Linked DNA regions of Homo sapiens: region 1 is linked to region 2. Evidence: fine-mapped expression QTL. A gene starts in region 2. The other region holds a variant in brackets. All regions are shown on one strand. Distances are from middle to middle.

Region 1 (2,905 bases), 490 kb before region 2:
CTTTCTGTAAGTCGGTCTGAGAATGCGAAGCAAGAGATAGAGTGAGAGAAGGAGGGCAGGAGGGAAGGAAGAAATGGTGGACAGAGGCAGAGGTGGAGAGAAGGGAGGGGAAGGGAGGAGAAAAGGGGAGGGTGAAAGGGGAGGGGGAGAGGAGAAGAAGAGGATGAGTGTGCGTTCCCGTGTGCACATTTATGAGAGAGAGAGACAGAGTATGCACACATGCCTGTGAGTAAACAGCAGAAGTGCAAGAACAAAGGGAATAAAAACAAAAGAGAAGGCCGGGTGTGGTGGCTCAAGCCTGTAATCCCAGCACTTTGGGAGGCCGAGGCGGGCGGATCATGACGTCAGGAGATCGAGACCATCCTGGCTAACACAGTGAAACCCTGTCTCTACTAAAAATACAAAAAATTAGCCGGGCGTGGTGGCGGGCACCTGTAGTCCCAGCTACTTGGGAGGCTGAGGCAGGAGAATGGTGTGAACCAGGGAGGCGGAGCTTGCAGTGAGCCGAGATCGCACCACTGTACTCCAGCCTGGGCGACAGAGCAGGACTCCGTCTCAAAGAAGAAGAAAAAAAAAAAAAAAAGAGAGAGAAAAGTGGTAGGGGAGGGAATGAAAGAGGGAGAATGAGCAAGAAAATTCACTCACACGTGTAAGTGTGAATGCCCTTGAAAAACTCAAAGATAGCTTCAAAAATATTTCCTGTCCTTTTTCGATCCACTGAAATCACACTTCATGGGGTGGAGTGGCTTTGAACAATGAGGCACTCTAATATTTCCTGCATCACGACACTTTTTTGATTTTATTGTTTATAACCTTGGTCAAGGAACTGGCATTTCTTGGGCTGAACACATTCTAACTTACCATTCCCTTCTGAGGAAGCTGCTGTCATTTTTCCAGAAACAAAAAAAGTTTCAAAACAAAAAACACTTGCTCAGCTTAGTTACATTTAGCTTAACATACATTTGCAAACTGGTGTTATATACACAAAATATACAATGAGCTCTCACAAGCAAAATCTGCTTTGACTGCCCCAGAAAAATAGCGTTATCTTTGAACTGACCTTCAACTAATCAAGTAGTAACAGCGTGGCTCACTGTATATTTTCTCCACTTCCTTTCCATTCGCAACGGCATATGTGGTGTGTGTGGCATAGGGCATTCATATACACATACCTCCACAAAGCCTGCCATATGCACTGAGGCTAACTTCATTTTTACAACACCAGAATTCAGTTAAGAGTGGAGATAAAAGCAAGTACAGGTCACTGTTCAGATCAGGTAGTAGAGAGAACATCTAATTGCAGGGAGGCAAAGGCAATAGGGAGTCAACTGATAAGGAAGAATACTCCTGCCCTAACCCCTCAGTATGTAGTTCCACATCCAAAAAATACCAGAAATGGCTAGGAGATATTTCTTATCGGAGGCATGGTATCTTTTTGTCTGAAATAATGCACTGTATTTCTCAAATATTACTCTATCCTAGAGATACTGTTGAAACTGACCTTAAACCAGAACATCTTAGTAGAGCTGGGAGAAGTCAGGAAGTAAGCTCAATCCCATTCTGCAGATTGGTAAATGGGACCCAGAGGAGTTAAGTGAATGATGCAAGGTGTAGCTTTAGCCAACAGCTGGGCCAGGGGCAAGACTTAGCTTCCTTTCGCCTTCTGGTCTATTTACCACTACACAGTGTCTTAACTCAGGCAACAGAACAATATGAAC[T/A]CTTGTTACCCTGAGGACCATGGCAACTATTATTCAACATCTAGGGAGTGTCCTCTCATCCATTCGTTAAGTTGTAATTTTGACCCTATCCCATGTGGCTCAGAAATACTTGGCATATGACAACAACAGAAATGAAACAAAAGACTTTGCTTCTACAGACTAACCGGACCAGCAAGGAAGAAGACCACTTTCTGAAAATGACCATCCTTTGTCAAGAAACAAACACCCGCTTTTCCTCATTCAGTGATGTGAATGAACAAAATGTCAGGTTAGTTTGTTAGTAGGTGGGTTTTGAAATGCCATTTTCTGCTACCTCATCTTTGTCCAAATGTAAACCCAAGGACCTTGAGCATTCATTCATTACCAGAGGCTTGAGATGTCTTTGCCATTTCTGCTCATCCAGGATCCAAGTCCTGGTATCAGATTCATTTCCATTGCTTTGTGATTGTTCCCTGACAATCCCAATGGATGCTAGCTGGTTCAGTCCTAAGCCATTGAATCTACCCCAATTTGAAGATAAGGCCGGGAGCTGTGGCTCACGCCTGTAATCCCTGCACTCTGGGAGGATGAGGTGGGTGGATCACTTGAGGTCAGGAGTTCGAGACCAGCCTGGCCAACATGGCGAAACTCCATCTCTACTAAAAATACAAAAATTAGCCAGGTGTGGTGGCGTGCGCCTGTAGCTCCAGCTTTTGGGAGGCTGAGGCAGAAGAATTGCTTGAATCTGGGAGGCAGAGCTCACAGAGAGCCGAGATCATGCCACTGCACTCCAGCTGGGCAACAGAGTGAGACTCCATCTCAAAAAATTAAAAAAAAAAGATAGTATGGAATCTGTCTGGGATTTATTGACTTTCTGCAGGTAGATGAGTCAAAGAAGAGGCTGTGATACCTGTAAGAAGACCTGCAGAGGCAACTTAAGATAAGCTAGCTGTCCCCGAAAGGTGGATTTGAAAAAACTCAACCTCGTCTACATCATATGACAGTAGATGTGTTTACCAAAAGACAAATGCAAAATGAATTCTGAAAAATCAAATAAAACTAAAGCACAAAGGATACCTTTGCAGCAAAGATTCCTCATGAATGTGATTGCTCTACTTTGTATGTACGTAATTTTGTTTGTCAAACTTTATCAAGCAATGCATACTAAAAGTGTATACTTAGAGTATACTATAAACTCTAACAGTCAA
Region 2 (2,905 bases):
AAGGAAGCGCTTCAACAGGAGGAGAGTGGTTCAAAAGATGGACAAGAGGTAAGTTGTGATCTTCGAAGACCAGGTCATGGAGAAGGGGGCACCCTTAAAGGGAAGTGAGAGAGGGAAAGAAAGAATTTCATTCTAATTCCTGAGAGCAAGGCAGCGCATATAAAATTACCTAAGATTTACAGAGCGATTTGCCGTTTACAAAACATTATGACATTCACGATAACGTTTAATCCTTATCACCCTGAAACGCTGGTTACATTTTATTTTACACATGAGGAAACTGAGGCTGAGTAGGGCGGATTATGCGACTTGCTCAAGGTCACTTGGCTGAAGTCAGCGCTAGGATGCATCCCCAATGCCCCCACCCCTCCGGGTGGCCGTCCACCCTGAAAGTCTTTGTATTATCTCCTACAGGGCAAGGCTGGTGTGGCTGCAACAGACTTCGCCCCCTCACCCCCAAATCTGGGACGGAGCAGCGCCCTCAGGTGTCAAGGAGGGGACCTGAGTGACGCGGAGCCACTGACTGGGGTTTCCCTGTCCTGCGGGGCTCGCGGGAGCCAGGAGCAGAAGCCACAGCTCTCGAACACACGACAGGCAGTCAGTCAAGTCAGGCTCCAGCAGCAGTTGCCGGCGTGGGGCTTAACACGAGAGGGGCAGCGCTGGGTGAATTCCCCTCCGAGCGATCCCAGGGCTAGGACCAAGCGCCTGCGCCCGCTTCTCCGACCCGGCTCCCCACACTCCCCCCTGCCCCGCTGGCTCCTTCCCGGAGGTTCCCCTGTGCGTGGGGGCGCCCTGGAAGAGGAATGGGGCTGGGGTGGAGTATGGAGGTGTCAGAGGGCCGACCCCGGGGCGAGGGCTTCCAACGCCGATCTTATGGGTCAGGACAACCGCGAACAAACCCCGGCTGAAGTTTGGGCATCAAGGGTTTCAGACCAAGTAGCAAGTTGCCTGGAGAGCGAGCGGTCCTAGGTGGAGGGCCTGGGGCAGGGGTGGCGGTAGGGGAACAAGGGAGAGGCAGGAGATGGTGCCCCTTCCCACGCAGCCCCTCGCGGCCCCGCGGGTAGGTGGCCGGTCCGCCTCTGCAGCCCGCGGGTGCGGAGAAAGCGCCCGGCACCGGGCACCCGGCACCGCGGCGCAGCGCAGCCAGCCCCTCCTCGCCGCGCTCCGCGCTCCTCCCCACCTGCCCACGGCCTCGCCCCCGCCGCGGAGACTCACAGTCCTCAGAAACTGGATCTCGTCCTCGCCTCCTTCTCCCCCTTCGGCCATGGCTCCCGAGGCGTCGGCGGTGCCCCAGCCTCCGGCGCCTCTGCTTCCCCCGGCAGCCGCTCGGCGTGCGCTGACTGCTGCTGCGCTCTTTCTCCTCCTCCTTTTCGTCCTCGTCCTCCACCTCCTCCTCCAGCTCCTGGCTCAGCCTCAGCCTCAGCAGCGCCAAGCTAATCCCCGACCATATAGGGAGCTGGGCTAACACTCCACTGCACTGCAGAGCGCCAACGCCAACCAAGCAGTCCGCCCACCCCTCTCGCCTCTCGCCCCAGCCAAGTGCGCTGCGGCCGCCCGCTCCGTGGAGAGCGCAACGCTGGGCGCGTCGAGCTGGCGGGGGCGGTGCGGGGGCCCTGGGCTGGCGCGGTGGAGCCTCCCCCGCACCGCTGGGTACCGCACCGCACACTCAGCGGAGGCGCGCGCCCCGCGGCGACCGGAGGATGTCCCCTAAACTGCTCCAATTCACAAACAAAGGCCAGTTGCTTAGCTCCAGCGCGCCCAGACTGGGTACCAACCCTCTCGCTTTGCTCGCTTTGCCCGCTTTGCCCACTTTGCCTGTGTGTGTGTGTGTGTGTGTGTGTGTGTGTGTGTGTGTGTGACAGAGATAGAGAGAGAGAGAGAGGAAAGAGAGAGACAGAGACAGAGAGAGAGAGAGAGGAAAGAGAGAGACAGAGACAGAGAGACAGAGAGAGGAAAGAGAGAGAGACAGAGACAGAGAGAGAGAGAGAGAGAGAGAGAGAGATCTGGACTCGAATACCTTGCTAGGACCCGCGTGCATTGTTGGGCAAGGAGAAGACGGTGCAGTGAGGAGCGAGGGTGATTGTCCACTTACAACAAAGTTTGCAACTCCCTGGATAGTCCTTTCTACACCTTAAGAGAACCCCTTCCCCTCTTCAAAATTGGTAAGTACACTTTACCAAACCCCTGGATTGTCCAGGGTTGCTGTGACTTCTGTACCCCAGGGAGCTTCTGGGGGATCCTGTGCCACCCTCAATTTGGAAGTCAGGTGGCATCACAACCCTTCCTCTCTGCCCACCCCTAACCTTATTCTGCATTTAGAGTTCCAGCCCTGTGGACTCTAAAGGGAGTAGAGAGTAGTTACAGGAGGCTCCCTTCCAGGTCCTGGAAGGCTCCTACATCCCACCCAGCCTTAGGTCCTTTTCCATGGTTGGGGATTGCCAGATTGGTCCTTGCCTTGACTGACGGTGCAGGGTGCCCCCTTCTGTTTGATGGCCGAGAAGCTCCAAGGCAAGAGACTGTTCAAGGCAAAAGGCACCAGAGATGTAGATTTAGGAGGAAGTGCAACTGGGAAGGTGGTAATTCTGGGCTGATGATGGTGGAAGACACTGGAAACCCCAAGCCATTTCACAGCTTCATATACCGCCTCCTTGTGGACGACATCTATCTCTTGATGCTACCTTAAGATCTCTTTCCTGAGCTTCCGTCCCATATGTTCTGATGAACATCAGAAATGCAAAGAAAAATGTTTTTTTCTTGTATTGTACTCAAACTGCTACCTTCTAGGCTTCAGCTTGGGCCTTGTGCCTCTTCTGAAACCCGCCTAGAATAAGTCAAACCATCTGTACATTGTGGCCCTTCACCTCTTAGAAGGCATCTGCCATGCTTGCCTCTATGGCCCACCATC

Evidence for each region. PIP is the estimated chance that this variant, and not a neighbour inherited with it, causes the effect.
Region 1: its variant is fine-mapped to the expression of RYR3 in nasal epithelium (TOPMed, PIP above 0.99).

Annotation. Positions count from the first base shown.
Region 1 is chr15:33,803,148-33,806,052 of GRCh38, reverse strand. The region is part of intron 69 of RYR3 (ryanodine receptor 3); the gene reads right to left. Among named protein-coding and RNA genes, the nearest start is that of CHRM5, 160 kb to the left of the region's middle. The variant T/A (reference allele first, on the strand shown) is at 1,719.
Region 2 is chr15:33,309,407-33,312,311 of GRCh38, reverse strand. RYR3 (ryanodine receptor 3) reads right to left here and starts at 1,345. Exons shown (of 104, transcript NM_001036.6): 1 at 1,216-1,345. The coding sequence starts at 1,266. RYR3-DT (RYR3 divergent transcript) reads left to right here and starts at 1,653. Exons shown (of 3, transcript NR_120327.1): 1 at 1,653-1,734. RefSeq lists enhancers at 103-612, 613-1,124.